Regions from separate parts of the Homo sapiens genome. Here all the other regions are linked to region 1. Evidence: fine-mapped expression QTL. A gene starts in region 1. Each other region holds a variant in brackets. All regions are shown on one strand. Distances are from middle to middle. Region 1 holds the start of ARLN (allregulin). Region 2 overlaps PDE5A (phosphodiesterase 5A). Region 3 overlaps SYNPO2 (synaptopodin 2).

Evidence for each region.
Region 2: its variant is fine-mapped to the expression of ARLN in whole blood (TOPMed, PIP above 0.99). The same link has a PIP of 0.9 or more in blood mononuclear cells.
Region 3: its variant is fine-mapped to the expression of ARLN in monocytes after Pam3CSK4 (Quach 2016, PIP 0.95). The same link has a PIP of 0.9 or more in monocytes after LPS.

The regions. Positions count from the first base shown.
Region 1 is chr4:119,297,909-119,302,908 of GRCh38, reverse strand. ARLN (allregulin) reads left to right here and starts at 2,264. Exons shown (of 2, transcript NM_001001701.4): 1 at 2,264-2,573; 2 at 4,130-5,000. The coding sequence starts at 2,374. The coding sequence ends at 4,130. RefSeq lists enhancers at 2,291-2,520, 2,621-2,670.
Region 2 is chr4:119,501,056-119,506,055 of GRCh38, reverse strand. PDE5A (phosphodiesterase 5A) reads left to right here. Exons shown (of 21, transcript NM_001083.4): 17 at 124-201; 18 at 1,457-1,520; 19 at 3,401-3,475; 20 at 4,803-4,886. Among named protein-coding and RNA genes, the nearest start is that of LINC01061, 93 kb to the right of the region's middle. The variant C/G (reference allele first, on the strand shown) is at 2,704.
Region 3 is chr4:119,021,897-119,030,562 of GRCh38, reverse strand. It overlaps SYNPO2 (synaptopodin 2), which reads right to left. Exons shown (of 5, transcript NM_133477.3): 2 at 6,982-7,133; 3 at 3,125-3,936; 4 at 1-718. Among named protein-coding and RNA genes, the nearest start is that of SYNPO2-AS1, 42 kb to the right of the region's middle. The variant T/C (reference allele first, on the strand shown) is at 4,530.

The DNA of each region.
Region 1 (5,000 bases):
GTTAAAGCAAAATTCATCATCATCTCCCTCCTGAAAACTTATTGCACTTGAAGTTCAGAAGATCTGTAACGTCTTCTTAAAAACACTTAGCTGTCTTTGGCCTGATGGTTATAGCATTTTCATACACCACCTTCTCCACCCCAGCTCAATCAGATTAATTGTGCTGACAGAATTATGGAAGTGTTGGATCATGGTTGCAGTGCAATGATTCAATCTGTAGTCCCTGGTGCATATTTTTCAGTTGAACATGTGAAGTAGAAAGTTCAAGGTGGTTGGACAAGTGCCGAGGTATTGCATGACTGACAGTGAACCTGGATTTCAGTACAGTACTTTTTAAAATTTAAATTGCTTTGATAATGGCAAATGCCAACTGAGCAAGGTGGCTCATGCCTGTAATCCCAGTACTTTGGGAAGTCGAGGCAGAAGGATCACTTGAGGCCAGTAGTTCAAAATCAGCCATAACACACTCTAAACTCATTTCTGTAATGTGGAATAATCAACAATCAGTGGGACTTTTACAAGGGTAAAGTCGGAAATAGAATCTTTCAACTGAATTTAGTTTAAATAACCCCTCCTTATTTGCACTAGTTGCTCTTCCAAGTCTGGCAGACGTTCCTGACTCTAGAACAGATCATACTGTCAACATCCCCTCATGATGAGCATGTGACTCTGGGCCAAAGACAAGTTTAAAACCATTTCAAGACCTGTTCAGTTTATGTCATGCTTCTTCAACACTAATAATCTCAATAATTTTTTATCAATCCTACTTCAATAACTAGGAGTAATTGATCCTACCTTGTCAGCGAGAAGAATGCTTCCATCTCTGGTAGAGGCAATTGTTTATTTGCCTTTCCTAATTTTTGTAAAGATTCAATGCCACTTAAGCCCAGGGTCTTTTTGTCTACTACCATCAGACAATCTGTATTACAGCACACAATCTAATTAATTCTCAGGTAATGGCCCTCTCATCCCAGAATCTACAAAGCATTTTTCTTGAAAGGTCGTATACTATCTTTGTCTCTAAAACCTGGCAATTGATTTGGAGGCAAATTGGAGCAAGGTTAGGAAGCTATGGAACAGCTTTAAGAGTGCTGGATTTGGAGTTAATTTTAGGCTTTATAATTTTTTTAGTAACCTTAGACAATTCACTCCTTTTGTGTCTCATTTCCTAATTCTATAAGATGGAGTACTGCCCCTTCAAAGAGGTTTTACGACGATTTAATGACTTTGTAAAAACACAACTACAGTCTTATCTCCATTTACTATGCACCAAGAGAACCACTTATATGTCTGGGTGCCCGTTATTTTCTGAACAATTCAGGAATCATAATGTGACAAGAAAGAGAATATTTGAAATTGGACCCACGAGGTAAAATCCAGGCAGTATAGGTCATTTTCTTCCTGCTAGCATTCTGTTCTTGCTGAGGCTCACACTCAAAGTCAAATAACCTTTGGGTTATTCTTCCCACCCCCATTTCCCCCCAGATGGAGTCTCGCTCTGTTGCCCAGGCTGGAGTGCAATAGTGGCACGATCTCAGCTCACTGCAACCTCCGCCTCCCGGGTTCAAGCGATTCTCCTGCCTCAGCCTCCCGAGTAACTGGGATTACAGGCGCCTGCCACCACGCCCGGCTAATTTTTGGATTTTTTTTTTTTTTTTTTTTTTTTTAGTAGAGACGGGATTTCAGCATGTTGGCCAGGCTGGTCTCGAACTCCTTACCTCAGGTGATCCGCCCGCCTCGGCCTCTCAAAGTGCTGGGATTACAGGGGGGCGCGGCCAGGTTATTCTTAAACCCACTCCCTTGAAGTACCTGCAAAATGCTCACGTGCTGCTCTCTGGCCCGTTTGGAAACTCAGTCCCGTGAGTAGGACGTCCACCTCATTGGTGGTGTTTAAATATTAAGTGTCAAATGCTAGAGACAGTACAAAACCCACCAGAGGGGGCCTTCCTAACACGTTGGCATAAGGATCCAAACGGAATACGGGGATAGGAGAGGTGACCTCGTGCAGTTTCAGGGAGGAGTCCATCACCTGACTGGACTGGGCCTTTCAGGGGGACGAGAACGTATTTCTTCCAACGAAACCTGAATAACCAGCTATCTGCCTGGGACGCCGCGAGGCAGAAGTAGGCGGGCCCATTGACTTAGTGTCAAGGCGGAGGCCGCGCTTCATGCCAGCGGTCACGGAGGCAGCGGAAAGCCGAGCCAGGCGCCTGCGCGCTGGGAAGAGTAGGTTCAGAGTGCATTCCGGAACCCGGGGCGCGGCGCACTGCGCAGGCGGCCGGACTCCGCTCAGTTTCCGGTGCGGCGAACACCAAAGTCCGGGAACTTAAGCATTTTCGGTTTCTAGGGTTGTTACGAAGCTGCAGGAGCGAGATGGAGGTGGACGCACCGGGTGTTGATGGTCGAGATGGTCTCCGGGAGCGGCGAGGCTTTAGCGAGGGAGGGAGGCAGAACTTCGATGTGAGGCCTCAGTCTGGGGCAAATGGGCTTCCCAAACACTCCTACTGGTTGGACCTCTGGCTTTTCATCCTTTTCGATGTGGTGGTGTTTCTCTTTGTGTATTTTTTGCCATGGTGAGTATCTCGAATGCAAAATTGGGGTGGTAAGGAGCTTAGAGATCATTTGCTCGCTTTTGGGCGGGGAGGGGACTGAATTCCAGAGAGTTTATATATGTCCAAGATCACACAGCTGGTGAGTGGCGCAGTCGGGTGGGTGGGGGAGAAGGACTAGGAGTAAAATGTCCTTCTTTAGCACGTCCGTGGGAGTCTCCAAAGAAGTGTGGAGAAAACTTGGCGTCATATTTTCTCATGATTTGGAATGAAACCAGCTAGGCTTGAGTTCCTGCAGCACCATGAAGCGACCGGAGAAGTTATTTCGCCTTTTGGAGCTTTATTTTTTCATCTGCCATTTGGGACCATTAGTAACCCAGGTCATAGGGGTGTAGTGAAGATTGAGATCGTAGTGATTTGCATGTTGCCTGGCAGTAGTAAGTGCTCAACGAAAGCTATTTTTACTATACAGCTGTTTAACCATGAGCAGACCACGCAGCTGTCTCAAACTAAACATGTCCAAAACTGAACTCTTAACAGCTTCTTACCCAAATTTACTTGCCTTGCAGCGTTACCATTTCAGTAAACGCCAACTTTATCCACCGTTACCTCCCAGAAACCTGAGACACTTTGCCCTTTTCTTACACACATCCACATATCCTAAAACACCAAGTTACAAAATTCTGTAGAGTTTACTTGTAAAACCCATGCTCTCCATTTTCATCGCCACTCGCTCTGAAAAGACAATTCTGGCAGAGGGTAAAGGAAGGGAACTTAAGAGAATAGGGCAGGAGGAAGCAGACACCAAATGGAGATGGTGTTAAGAGACAAGCTAAGGAGAAGCAGTGAGATGAAACAGGGCTCCTATGGGAGAAGAGCAGTGTAGCCCATCTAGACAGCTCTCCTGGACTTTGGAGTTGATTGTTCACTCACTGTTAACTCCTTAGTCACCATGCCTATGAGTTACTTCTGAAATTCTCACTTCTTGATAGGCAGTCACTTCTTCTACACCCCCAACCCCCATCCTATATTTTCACCAAGATTTGGGTGTCTTAAGCCTCACTGTCTCATTTCTTGGATGGTGTAGTAAGTTAGAGAAGACAGAGAGGGCCAGGCACAGTGGCTCACGCCTGTAGTCCCAGCTACTTGGGAAGCTGAAATAGGAGGATTGCTTGAGCTGGGGAGGTCGAGGCTTCAGTGAGCTGTGAACGTGCCACTATACTCCAGTCTGGGAGACAAAGCAAACCCTGTCTCAAAAAAAGGGGTGGCAGGGGAGCGAGAGGGATTAATGGGAGGATGGCAAAAGGGATAGGGATTTCTATAAAATTCTCTGTCAAGCCATTTGTAAAGGGAGAGTTTTACTCTCCCTCCCTGTTTTGGTAGAGACTGATAATCTCAAATACAGTGGGTTTTGTGTGTGTGTGTGTTTTTATGACCTGAACTTTCAGCTCTGGATAGAAAATAGAGGCCTTACAAGAAATGTTCTAGGCTTTTCTTTTTATCAATATGTAAATAGGCATAAAGTGTTAAAAACTGGGAAGATAAAGCACATATTGCTGACAAATACTTGCTTTTTACAGACTTGTTCGCTGATATCTAAATTAAGAAGTTGGTTCTTGAGTGAATTCTGAAAATGGCTACAAACTTCTTGAATAAAGAAGACAGGACTCTCAATAGAAGAATTTCACATCTCCAAGGGACCCTTCCTTTCATTTTACACTTTGTTACTAATTTGCAGAACTCTATTAATTGGGTAGGATTTCACCCATTCCTAGCTAAGTTCTTAAAATTAAACCCTTTGGTTCGTGTTTAAAAACTTTCAAACATCTGATGGCTTTACAGGGGCTGAATATAAAAGCATTTGTACTTAAAGGTCTTGTGTATTCATTAAGAAATATAGTAATGTCTTTTAATGTTTTAAGAGTTGATCAGGGTTTACTATGATGCAAGTAATAGGATGATTAATAAGGGAAGGTTTTTATGAATTCAAAAGTCAATTATTCAAAAGCAGGGAAAGATTTTGAGAGAGGGAACAAAGTATTCTTAGATTGCGTAGAAGCTGCTAGGTTCCAGTTTTAATTTTTAGGTTTAGTTGGACTCTGTTATGAAAAGATAGGTTATGGGTGGGCGACAGGTTGATACAGTCTTAGAAAAAGCAGGTAATATCAAAGTATTGGAAAGCTAGCATGCATGCCCTCTTACCTGGGTATCTTCCCCCTTTTTTCCTTTTAAACTCTTGAGCCTCCTATAACGAAGGATTATGTGTTTCAAACCTATTTTTTTTTTACTGTTTCATTAAGTGTGCTTGTGCCCAAAATATTTACTTGTATAATATCTGTAACTTGCTTAAATACTTCAGCAAAGTCAGCATATTTACTCATTCAACAAATATTTGAGCCAGGCATTATTTTAGACACAGCAGTGAACAAAACAAAAAGGCATTCTTGCCTT
Region 2 (5,000 bases), 200 kb before region 1:
TAAGATGGGAAAAAAAATCAGAGGTTTTTTTTCACCAAAATTTAGTCCATGAGTCTTTGTGGACCAAAGGGATAAGACCCTGGGTACTCATTATAACTAACAATTTTTTTTTAAACATTGTAGGAGGCGAGGAGAATTTTTTGAACTTATAAGAAAAAATCAATTCAATTTGGAAGATCCTCATCAAAAGGAGTTGTTTTTGTAAGTAGGTTTACTATCTTTAAAGCTGAAGTTTTTTACCCAGTTAATTTTCTCACTATTTTTTCCTCACTGTTAGTTTTTATTGCAATTATTTGTTACAATATGATGATCTTAAAAGCGGTCAGATTTCTCCAGAGGGTTGTACAAAGAGTAAATTTGAATATTTACTTGAAAAGAAATGCATTTGCAAATCCAAGTGAATGAACTGTTCCTTTGTTCTAGAAAAACCTTTAAAATGTGGTAGAGTATCAATATATGGCTATAGGTTTCCCTTATTCATTTTCCTAATTCATTGTAATGGAAGTGCTGAAAATGGAATTATAAATGTTGTGGAAGTAAGATATAGCTGCAAAATGTTTACTTCTCTTAAAGAAAATCTGAAAAGGTAGAGCAGTGAGGTCAGGGTCCAGACATGGAAGGAATACTATTAAGTCTCTATGATTAAAACAGTTTGATATTGGTGGCAGACCAGTGGAACACAGCTGAAAATCTAGAACTGCATAAGACATATAGTGTATAATAAAGATAACATTTCCAGTGACTGGAGGAAAGAGAGAGATAAGTGGATAACCAAATGGAAAAAGACAAAATTGGATCTACTCTACAGACTTAAATTCCAACTGAAGCATAGAGTTCAATGTAGAGAATTAAATCATACAAGCATTAAATAAAAATATAGATGGATTCTTCTATAACCTAGGAGTGAGAAAACTTTCCTAACTATAATTCAACATGCAGAAACAATAAAGGAGAAAGCTGAAAAACATGATTAATCATTCAAAGGCTTTTCATTTAGAAGTTACCATGTGTGTTGAGTGAATTAGGATGACCTACTATAATTTCTGATATAAGACTTTTATCAGTATGATACCTGATGTTGTACTTTAATGGTTATTAGTAATCAATGTACTTTCATCATACTGTCGCTGAGAATGGAATACTAAGGTGACAAAAATAATAAAAGCAGGCAAGATTTTACCCAAGGTTAATAATTTTTCAGTCTGCCAATCTGGAGCTAAATGAGGCAGTTTGAGGACAAATTCCAAAAGTTCAAAGGGAAACTGAAACAATGATGCTCTGTTATCAATGTATTAGTTAGACTTTCATATAAATTGTTTCTTTTTCTTTGGTCTTTATAAACTGCCATTTCCATTGTTTAGAGGGTTTTAACTTTTTTTTATTAGTAACTATTTACTGAGGGTATATAATAACACAAAAGTAAATAGGAGTTTTGGGTTTCTTTTTTCCATAACAGGGCAATGCTGATGACAGCTTGTGATCTTTCTGCAATTACAAAACCCTGGCCTATTCAACAACGGGTATGTTACTTAGTGACAATAACAATAATTAAAAAGTCAAAATAACATTCTACCCAGCAATCCCACTACTAGGTATCTACCTAAAGAAAAATAAATGACTATATAAAAAAGACACTTATATGTTCATCACAGCACCATTTATTATATAATAGCAAAGTCATGGAACTAACCTAACTGTCCATCAACAGTTGATTAGATAAAGAAAATGTGGTACATATGCACCATGGAATACTATGCAGGCATAAAAAGAATCAAGTCATGTCCTTTGCAGCAACATGATTGGAGCTGGAGGCCAATTATCCTTAATGAACTAACTCAGAAACAGAAAATCAAACACTGCACATTCTCACTCATAAGTGGGAGCCAAACAGTAGGTACACACGGACATAAAGATGGAAATAATAGACACTGGGGACTCCAAAAGGGGGAAAGGTGGGAAAAGAACAAGGGGTGAAGAACAACCTACTGGGTACAATGTTCACTGTTTGGGTAATGGGTATACTAGAAGCCCAGTCCCCACCAATACACAATATACATATATACCAGACATGCACATATACCCCCTAAATCTAAAATAAAAAAAATTTTTTTAAGTAAGTTTTTACTCTTAAAGGTAGCTTCTGAAGTAAGTATGGAATTTTTTTTGGAATTTTTAAGTAGTATTAAAAACAGATAATTGGACATACAAAGGCTTTTCTTTTTAGAAGATGCATTTGCACATAATATTTGTAAGATATATTAAGAAAGAGAGCATCTACATTAGCACAGTTTTCATTTCAGTGTGAAAGGCTGAGCATACTTAATGCAAAAACCCAAAATGTTCCAAAATTCAAAGCATTTTGAGTACTGACATGACACTTAAAGAAAATGCTCATTGAACCAGCATTTTAGGTTTCAGATTTTTGGATTTGGAATATAACTTATACTTCTGGCTTACTTGTTTCTTAAGGTCATCCCTTTAATGACCTTGAAAATTAGAAGAAGCAAAATTACTTTTCTTATGGTTAGCCTTCTACGCTGTGCCTCAGCTCTAAATAGACATTAACAAGTAGAACATAGAGATTTCTGGGGCTTGTAGATGTAGGAAGTATTGATATAAGATGTCGAGAAAGTTCTGAATGGAGCCTGTTACCAGGAGGCTAGAAAAAAATCCTTCCCTCTAAGTAACTGCTATAATGTTTTG[C/G]AGAGGCAATACAGGCTCAGAAAAAGTGATGGATGTCCATGCAGTGACATATATATTGTGTTTTTGTTTTTCAAGATTTCATTTTGAGTCCGTAATAAATATGCTATTTAGGATTGTTGACAGCCTGCTGTTGGTCAAGACTCCGGGCTGCTTAGTCAGGGAGCCTAGTAACTCTTCCTACAGGCTCATCTCATGAAACAGACATGCCGAGAAAACAAGATCAAAAACTCATTCTCCATGTGCCAAAGCCAACACGCCATAAGCACTTAGGTGATCTTTACCTACCTTCCTGCCCATAATAAACAGGACTATATGCCTATTTATTTCTAACCAGGTAAGAGAATAGAAGAGGGAAGAATGTGTCTTCATATATCCTTTCTCTCCCCTGAATCAAACCCTTGTACATACTGTTTTATGGGGAGAAAATAAATGAAGAAAACATTTTTAAATAAAATTAAAAGGGAAAAATGTTGGAAGCTACCAAAGACAGAGAGATGTACCTAAGTGAAAAAGAGTATAATGTAATAGTTAAGAGAGCACGCTTTGGACATGGACTACTTGTCTTCGGGTATCAAGCTGCTGCTTATTTGCTATAAAATGGAGATATACAGCTCCTAACAGGGCCTTCATTCACGGTCTCTGTTTTAAAGAATGATATGCTTTTCATTGTCAAAACTGAGTCTGTTATTTATTTCAGATAGCAGAACTTGTAGCAACTGAATTTTTTGATCAAGGAGACAGAGAGAGAAAAGAACTCAACATAGAACCCACTGTAAGTATGAAACCTTGTTGGTAGGAATTATTCAAATTGTTTTTTTTTTAATTGTAGACTCCTTTTTATGGCTCTATGGGATCTTTCCTTAGGACCACAATTTCTCATTTTATTTTTTAAAACTTTTTTCTCATTGGAAGAATTATACATGTTCATTACAGAAAGCAAAACCAATAAAAGGCATAATAAAGACTCTTGGGTTCATCATATTGTATCAGTGTTCTTTGTAATTTGTTTTTTTCCGCTTAAGTATTAGAAACCACTTTTCATTTTAACAAATATTCTTATGTATTATCATGATTACATGAAATCGATGTAACCATAATTTACCTACGTCCCTTGGTGTAATATTTGCAGTGTTCACTATTACAAACAGCACTGTGATAAACATCCATCATAGATGTTTCACTCCTACTCCTTGGTTCTCGCCATCAAAAGAATTTAATAGAGAAGCTGTGGCTGACAGAGAAAGGAAGGAGAGATACCAAAAGAAACATGGAGGAAAGATGACCAGATGTCATGCCACCACCACAGTCTCCCCAGTTTTCTCAGCATTCTACTTGTTTACTCCTTTGTTCAAAGTTCTCCTCAGAAGTGTGTTCAGAGCAGTGTTTCATCTATCATAGATGTTTATCACAGTGCTGTTTGTAATAGTGAACACTGCAAACATTACACCAAGGGAATAGATAAACCGCCAAACCTCATTCTTCATTATCTTGTTAGCATAAATTCCCAAAGTTGTCGTGTTGAAGGGCAAACAGAATTTAAAGGTCTTTGATACATACTGCCTTTTTACATAGAGTATGGATCTCAGATACAAGTAAAGATTCCTCTCAGCCCACTTCTGTTTTTTGGAATGAGTTTCCTTGAAATAAAACATAAGAGTTTTCCTCTTTTTTTCTTTTTGTATTAGTTGCTGTCTGACCTTCCTAGGCTAACCCACTGATTCACCTTTCTAGAGCCAGCTTTGTGTTCTTTAAATAAATGCACACAATGGCTCATGCCTGTGATGCCAGCACTTTGGGAGGCCAAGGCAGTCAGATCCCTTGAGGTCAGGAGTTCTAGACCAGCCTGGCCAACATGGTGAAACCCTGTCGCTAATAAAAATAAAAAATCAGCCAGGCGTGGTACTGCACACCTGACTAGGGAGGCTGAGGCAGGAGAATAGCTTAAACTTGGGAGGTGGAGGTTGCAGTGAGCTGAGATGGTGCCACTGCACTCCAGCCTGGACAACAGAGTGAGACTCCATCTCAAAAAATAATAAAGTAATAACTAACTAAATAAATAAATGCACATCTGTGTGTCTGGTCTGTATTTGTATTTTCAGGATCTAATGAACAGGGAGAAGAAAAACAAAATCCCAAGTATGCAAGTTGGGTTCATAGATGCCATCTGCTTGCAACTGTATGAGGTATTTATATGAAAACTACTAGACTTGCTAAACTTGGACTGTTGTGAATTAGAACCTAAAATTGAAGAGATTAATATTAGGCGCCTATATTTTGCTTCTAAATCAAGAAATAAA
Region 3 (8,666 bases), 270 kb after region 1:
ACAGACCCTGGGAAGGGTTTGGCCGTTCTATTCATGGGGACCATCCTCTGGATGTTTGCTGTCTCAGATGTCCCACTGAAGCCATTCTGTTGGGGAACATGGCCAAGACCATGACTCACCTCGATGTAGCTTTTGCTCACAGAGCTCTGCGTTCTTACCGACTCTTCCTCCTTTCTTTGGTAAGAAGTCGTGGTTCTCAGGCCATCGGTCTGGGCAGCATCTTGTTCTCTGCTTGGCGTTCCACCTACCTTGTCCTCTTCTTTTTGGGCTGTGATCTGATCCATTCTCTCCCTCCTCTTGGCAAACATGAGGGCTCCCTTGCCTGTGGTGTCTGGTAACATCTCCATCTTGTCCCCTCTGTTCAGTTTCTTTTCAATGTCCACCAGTCCAGAATCCCAGTCAAAGTTCACAACTTGTGTGTTGTCGTCAACGTCAGACAATAACTCTTCATCCACCTCTGATTCGCTTGCACCAAGAAATGCTACTTCACATGTATCCTCCTTGTCACCTTCTTCCTCCTCGTCCGCCTCTCGCTCAAGCTCGCCAGTACCGTAGCTAACTAGGGTGTATTTCCTGGCCCTCCGACGTCGCTTCTTAAACATCAACACCCCCTTGGAGTTGGGGTTGGGAGCATCCGTTAGAAGAAGGGCAATGCTTTTGCATTTAGATTTTGCTTCCTTCACTTGTTTTTCTGACAGGCTTTCACTCCTCCTGAGCCCTAGGGAAAGCAAAAAAAAAAAAATTATATTGAGCTGATGAGTTCAAGGAAGACACCACAGCAACTCAGAAATGAACTCTCCTGGGGGAAAATAAATATGTAAAAAATTGCCATTGAGTACAGAATTTTGAAGGAATCCAACACATTTCTTTTTCTTATTTCTCTTAACATGTTTCCTTCTACAATAATATACTGTTCTATTTGTTTACATAAAAATATTTTATATATGCTGATTAGAATATATGTTTCATACATTTGTTTCTCTAGAGATCCTTCCACTTTAATAATAAAAACTGGCTAGTAAATGTCAATTAATAGGATAAAATTAGAATTAAGAAGGACATAATTTAAAGACATAATATTTTCTGAAAAACAAGATGAGACATATCTCATACTTCCATATTTTAAAATAAAGTGTCAATATAAAACTGTTTCCAGGAATCTTAAAAAGGGAGGAGCGTCCCAAGAAGATGTTTTAAAATTTTCTAAATGTTTTAATGTAATGAATTTAGCTATTTAGGTTTTCTTCTTTCTCTTTTTTCTTTTTTTACCCTGACAACCACCCCAAATCTTTCCACTCACAGCTACTGGATTAATATAAATTCAAAACACTGAATTAATCATTGAAGGTACTGAATCAATAATTAAAATTCAAAATATGACATTATTGTAAATACATATAAGAAACTCTAGCTACAAAGTTTTCTAGACAGATTTGTTTGTAAATGTATTGCTATTTTGGAAATACAATATTACTTTCCTTGCAGCAAGAATAAACCTTGGAGAAATTTAAAAATTGACTTGTGACCCACTTAACTGTGTAAAAACTGATGCAGAAATTAAGTCATTTAAAACAAGAATATGATTTTTATTTTATAAAAATAAAAATATTTAAAATTTTCTTTCATTATTACTATTATAAAAAAGAAATGGGTGGCAAATTATAGCAACTAAACATATAGCATCTATCATTTATAATTTATAGTTATATCATATTTTCAATGATAATGACTGTGAGTCCCCTAAATTTTTTAATTCCTCAAAACAGTTAAGTGGAAAATTAAGAAAAAATTTTTGACTATTTTATGATTGAAAATTAGCTCTTTTTGTCACAGACTTAATGGTTAATTTTTTTTAAATAAAATATAATCCAAGGAAATAATTTTATAATATGATTACAGGCATTTACTGGTGATCGAATTTTCTAGAGAAAAATAGTTGAAACTGTGGTTATTACTAAATAGAATTCCTTTTTTGACTAGTGTTATACAACTTATTAAATTGACAGTCACAGTTGCACAGTTGCTGCTAACTTCACTGCCAACATGTAAAGTATGTGAATGGTGTCTCAATACTCTTGTTTAATATGCTATAAATGTGAAGATGGCCTACAGATGCTTAAAGTATAAGGAATGATTAACAGCACTTGCCAATAAAGCTACAAATGGTTATGCTAAAAATATGCTTTGAAAGGAATAACAATAGGTTAGAAGACTTAATATCCTACTTTGAATAACCGAATTCATTGCCATTGTGTATCATATATACAGTCAAGTGCCTTTGCCTGTCAGCCTTTACATCCTCAAATAAAATTCCAAAATTAGTAAAAAAAAAAAAAAAAACAAACAAAAATAAACGTGAAATAAAACAATAGAAATCCTAACACCTAACTGCAATTCTTATCCCAATTCTCCTTTCTGTCTTCTCTCCCCTGGGTAAAACAAAATGCCATACAAAGCACTGAATTTAAATATATTTTATGTTTGGAGACATTTAAATGCCTCCACATGGCCCTGGAGACTGACTTCTGTGTCTAGAAGGTAGATGAAACACTTTGCAGTCAAATGAAGACTTACACAACGGAGAGGATCATGTAACTGCTCAGTATACACATGTCCTTGTCTGTCAAACTCACTTCTGCAAGCATCATCAAGCTGCACAATGATTTTTTTTCAAAACAAGGATCTGCTTTTGATATCAATGGTAGAGCTTTTATTTTAAAGACACCTCTCAGTAGCAGACTCAACAGTTTTTGACATTTAAACTGAGTCCACATGACTTCAAGTGCTTTCTTATGCTATTTTAACATGAACTATTTCAACTGTCTGAAACAAAATGAACAGGCACATTGACAATATTATTTTCTTTAACAGTTCCTGTGCCTTTGGGGATAAAAAGAAATTCATGAAAAATGTTTAAATCTATATGAAGTTCGGACTTATTGCTTCCTATTTAGAAATTGGTATTCTCCACAATTTCACATTTGTGATTTTGTGCATTAATTAAATATTTCTTTAAGCCAATGAGAAACATAAGAAAAATCTTGCTGAAAAACTCATGCAAGCAAAGAAGCAGCAAAATGCCCCCAACTCCCAAGCCCCTTCTGAAAGCCCAGGCAGAACTTACGTGCATGCCGCGCTCGGTGCTTGTGAGGTCTGCTGTGATCTTTTTCCGAGCGTGGATCTTCTCCCTGCTCTGTGCCTTCTGATGAGACGGCAAAGGATACCAGAGAAGGAGGTGCTTCTGACTGCCCTCCTTCCACTGGAGAATCCACACACTCCTTTCCTGCCTGAAGCCTGCACCCTTCTGTCTTCTGCCTGTCAGAGCAGTCGAGGATCACTTCCACCCGGGGCAGTCCCGCATCTCCTGCTTCACTTTCCTGGATCACTCTCAACTCTCTGCCACTGGAGATCTGGATTATCTTGCTGGACCTCAGGAAAGGGTCTGCTTTCTCATTAGTAGGGATCGAATTTATGTGGACAATCCTGTCATGTGACAAGTTAGGGTCTGGGTCAGGAGACTTAGATTTTTCAGCTCCCGGGAGAGCCACTAAAGGGCCACTAGCGCCCTTATGTCTCTCCTGTGAAAGGGACAGTTGCAGCTCAACCACAGGCCCAGGCTGTACCGCTTCTACCTTCTCCCTTAAGATCAGCTCTTCTGCCACGCGTCCTCTTTGGGAGTCAGGCATTTGGGGAGCCCTTTGGTAGCTCGGGCCTGTTTCTTCTTTCAAGCTGCCTGCACAGTCGGGACCACTTCTTTGGTTCTCAGCTAGGGGAACTTCAGTCTTGACAGGGGCGAGGAAGAATTCTGTGCACTGGGTCTTTGTGGCCGGTCGAATCTGCAGGGTGGTACTTTCCACATAACCCCCATGTGTGAGATGCTCGAGGTTTTTGTTTTCATTTTCAGATATCAAAGCCTCACTTATTCCACTGGATGGTCTGCACACAGAAAAATCATTCCAGACACTTAAATCAGACTATGTTACATCTGCCAAAGAACTTCCTGACACTTTTGTGATGTCTAATATGTGATATAGTCAAAATATTTTCTTCTAAATGTCAGTTGCAACATATTTGAAAACAGAAGGTGGCAACATGTTCATATTATTACTTAAAGAGATACCAAATAAACTTTTTTAAAAGCACAAAGAAACTCTTACACAAGATTATGAAACCTGAATCCATCCTAAATTCAGCTTTTATTTTTAAAAAACTACATGGATCCCGTTTATCTGTAAGTACTTGGAATCTGGGTATCTCTTATAATGAGTTTGCTAGAATGTGACAAAGCATTTCAATGTCTTATTGACTAAGTTTTGGTCTAGACATTATGAAGTCACATAAACATATCCAGCACCTTCAGATCAATCTTAACTTACAGATAACTCAACTAGTCCTTTTAGAGGCTGTGCTTTCTTGAAAGGAATGAAATAGAAGCTGTTTTTTAAGCCCCAGTGAGCATGTGTTTCGTAATAAGTGGACCCAGCCCAGTACTCTTGCGTAAAGAGAAATCCTTTCCGTGCTGCAATGAA[T/C]CATTAAGTCATGGAGTATTTATAATCTGAGATGTCTCCCTTTCTTCTATTTGGATCTGTTTCTTGGAGCATTTTCTTTTTAGGATATCTGAAGTCAAACTGTTCCTTTATCTCTCAGCTAAGGAGCCTAGAGCTGTACACCACAGCTCTTTGATTTTGATCTTCCCAGTTGTCTGTGCAAATTTGGGTTTCTGAGAAGAAGCAATGTCAGTTTAAGAGTTAAATAACTTCTTTCTGAAACTCTAATTTAAACTGTAAATGTTTTTAGAGGTATTATTCACAGAACAGCTGTAGGAAATGCCTTCATTTTTTATATTTGTATTTTTTTTAATTTTGGAAGCAGCATAATTATCTTTGCCCCTTTCCTCCTTCCTTAAAAGACAGTTATGACTCATGCAGGCACGTCAGCTGAAGGGCGTGAGCTTCTACTTGGATTCTACTCAAAGGAATTTACCTTAGAATTTATGTGGTAGTGCAATTTCCGACCAATGCTCAAAATACTTACTCCTACCTTTGCTTTCAACTGCATTTGGCAAAACAAAACTAAACAAAATGAAAACAAACTAACAGTTAAACAAAATGCACCTTTCTCTATACGCAAGTAATTGGAAAAGCTTCCCTGTAATACAGTATTTATACAACATTATAATATCGTATTAAAAAAGCATGATGTTAGCAAATTAGATCATTATTATGTAGAAAATGTTAAATACATTGTTAAACTGAATTTGAGGGTACCAAAAGGTCAGAGAGTTTTAATTTAGGAAGGCCTTGGGATGGAAGTAGATTAAATCACTTTGAATAACGTTAGCAATCAATTGTGAAGCTGAGAAGAGAATAGTTTCAATTCATGCCAGCCTTGTAGACCAATACAGACAAATGGCCAGATAAATATTAACATTTATCAGCAGCTGAAGTAAAATAAATAGACATGAGTAAATATCATAAAAGCATGAGCGAATAAAGCTTTATGCCTTAAAACATTCATTTCCCATCAGTCTACATAGGTATTCATCAAGTCCACAATTTATGTGTCACAATTATAGAATTTTTAAAATCTTATTTTAAGAACATTCAAGATAATAGAGATGGAATGTTAAAGGAGTTATTTTAAAATAGTCTTACTGAGCTATCTCTGGGCAATAGTTCAGGAAAAGTAAAAACACTTGTCCTCTACTGATAGATGACAGTGATATGAGTGACAGAAATATTTATTGCAGGAAACAATATTCAGATATTTAAAATAGTGGTAGTGGTGGTGATGATAATAATTGCTTTTGACTTGATTTTCAATTGAGATTCCACTTTGAATCCTACCAATTAGTTACTTACTTTGTAATTTTTTTTATTTTATAAATTTAATTATGTATTAGTAAATTATGTATTTTATAAACTTATTTTCTCTTCATAACATGAAGGAAGGATTCTAAGGCCTTAAACACTGAGTTTGATGGGTAAATATTTAGATTATAAGAATAATGCTAGATTTCCATTGTTGTCTCAAGATTTTGGCCATAGTGAGTTCATTTTCATCCCGGAACAGAATCATACTGAATGATTAGCAGAGGGGTAACTGTGCGTAGTGTTTCTGCAGAGTTGAGGAAAAACCTGGAGGACCTTGAGGTTCATCTTGAGATGTCCTCTGACATCTTCCTAAAAGCTGCTCTCCAGGAAGCCAAAGCTTTCCTTTCTGGATTCATTATCATGCAATAGCCAGAGCTTCCGTTGCAAAATCAGTATGGATTGTACTGTGATTTGTACACCATAAAAATGTCAATGCTGTAGTTTTCCTTGTTATTGTCCTCATTGTTTTCTTTTGTTTTTTACATTTAAAGGTTTCTTTTATATTGTTAAACAACTATGTGGGGATGGTGGTATTTGAAGAGATTGAATTCCCAAATGACCTGTGTTGGTCGTGCAAAAACCTTATTCTAATCATCTGCTTTTGTCCATCCTCAAATATTGGTTTTACTGGAGAAATCCGGCTGCTTGTAAGTTTTTGTTGTTGTTTCTCTTTTCTGTCTCTTAAGCATCCTTTTAATGAAAAATTGTACAGTTTAATGGTCTAATATTTAAACATTTTTAATTCATCTGTGCATCTGATAATTACAATTGAGTGATTCTGATCCATCACAAAATCTTGACCTATCAAAGAAATATTAAGTTATGCTCAATATACTGAGCTTTCTAAGGAAGGAGCCTAAAATACCTAAGATTTTCAACAAAGTGCTTGAAACAAGCATTTTCAACTTAATTCTCAATTAACCAGAAAGTTTGGTTGACTAGAATTGACTATTTTTCAAACACAGTGGTGTTTCTGTTTAACTATACCTAACCTTCTACAAAGCACCCCTAATTTCTCCATAAATGACAAGTTATATATGTAGTAAAAGCTATAATCATTCCCATGTAGCTTCAAGAGAAAATACATATTCCAGCAAATCTGTTGTACCTTTTGATGAGCATTTGGAGAGAGTCTGTTATGCTTTCCATGAGCTTGATGACTTCAGGGTAGGTGAGATCTGCACAAGGGTTGCCATTGATGGAAACCACTTCATCTCCCTCACAGAGCCCAGACCCAGAGGCTTTGCTCTGATTTCGAATCTGAGTGGAGTAAAAAAAGAAGACATAGTAGAATGATATAATTTGTAAAAAGCAAGCCACCATCTCTGAGAAACAAATCTGTCAACAGTAACACCAGCCCTGAATTTTAATTCACCTGTTAACCTGTAAGACCATTTAAATACTTCTTACCACCTTATGAACACACACACAGCCACACACTTTATCATGTACCATAATATGAACATTTAATTCATAGCATTGTAAGTAAACAGGAAAAAAGAAAGTAAATAAATCAATGTAAAGGTACCAGACAGAATTAAAGAAATAAAAAATAGAGAAGAGTGAAAAAAGATGTTAAAGGCTTACATTGATGGCATTAAAAATAATTATTCAGGCCAGGCGTGGTGGCTTATGCCTGTAATCCCAGCACTTTGGGAGGCCAAGGCGGGTGGATCACGAGGTCAGGAGTTCGAGACCAGCCTGGCCAACATGGTGAAACCCCGTCTCTACTAACAAGTACAAAAATTAGCTGGGCATGGTGGTGTGCGCCTGTAGTCCAAGCTACTCAGGAGGCTGAGGCAGGAGAATTGCATGAGCCCGGGAGGTGGAGGTTGCAGTGAGCCAATATCGCACCATTGTACTCCAGCCTGGGCAACAGAGCAAGACTCTGTCTCAAAAATAAAATAAAATAAAATAAAATAAAATATAAAATAAAATAAAATAAAACATAAAATAAAATAAAATTAAAATAAAATAAAATATAAAATAAAATAAAATACAATTAAAATAAAATAAAATAAAATAAATAATTCAGGCCAGGCACAGTGGCTGATGCCTATAATCCCAGCACTTCGGGAAGCTGAGGCAGGTGGATCTCTTGAGCTCAGCAGTTTGAGACCAGCCCGGTCAATATGGTAAGACCCTGTCTCTAAAAAAAAAAAAAAAAAAAAAAAAAACCTACAAAAAATGCAAAAATTAGCCCGCTTGGTGGTGCATGCCTGTGATCCTAGCCACACAGGAGAAGTGGGAGGATTGTTTGAGCCAGGAGGTGGAGGTTGCAGTGAGCCAAGATCATGCCACTGCACTCCAGCCTGGGGGACAGAGCAAGACCCCGTCTTAAAACATTATTATTATGATGATGATAATTCCACATTGTAAGGTTTTACTCCAGTGAGAAAGTAACCTCCTGCATTACAATAAATTTTAAAATCCTTCCCATTGCCAAGGTGAATGAAACGCCATGACTATAAGAAGGAGGTACAGGACGGGGCAACTTGTTTGAGGAGAGAGCTGTATAGCTAAATGGACTGATAAAAACCATCCCAGTATAGTGGGGCACCAGGGAGCCTGGATATTAGGGAATATGTCAAAGAGAGAAATGCTTCATTGAAATCAGCTACTCCAGGCATGGTACTAAGCAAACTTTAGCAAAAAAGAAAGAAAAAAGAGATTACTTTGCAGAAAGTAAAAGCAGCCCTGCCATAAGCACTGTGTCATAATCTACTGGAATATTCTTACTCCAGTAAGAGATCAAAGACCAAGGGAAATGAGAGGTCAGGTCTATGCTCTCCT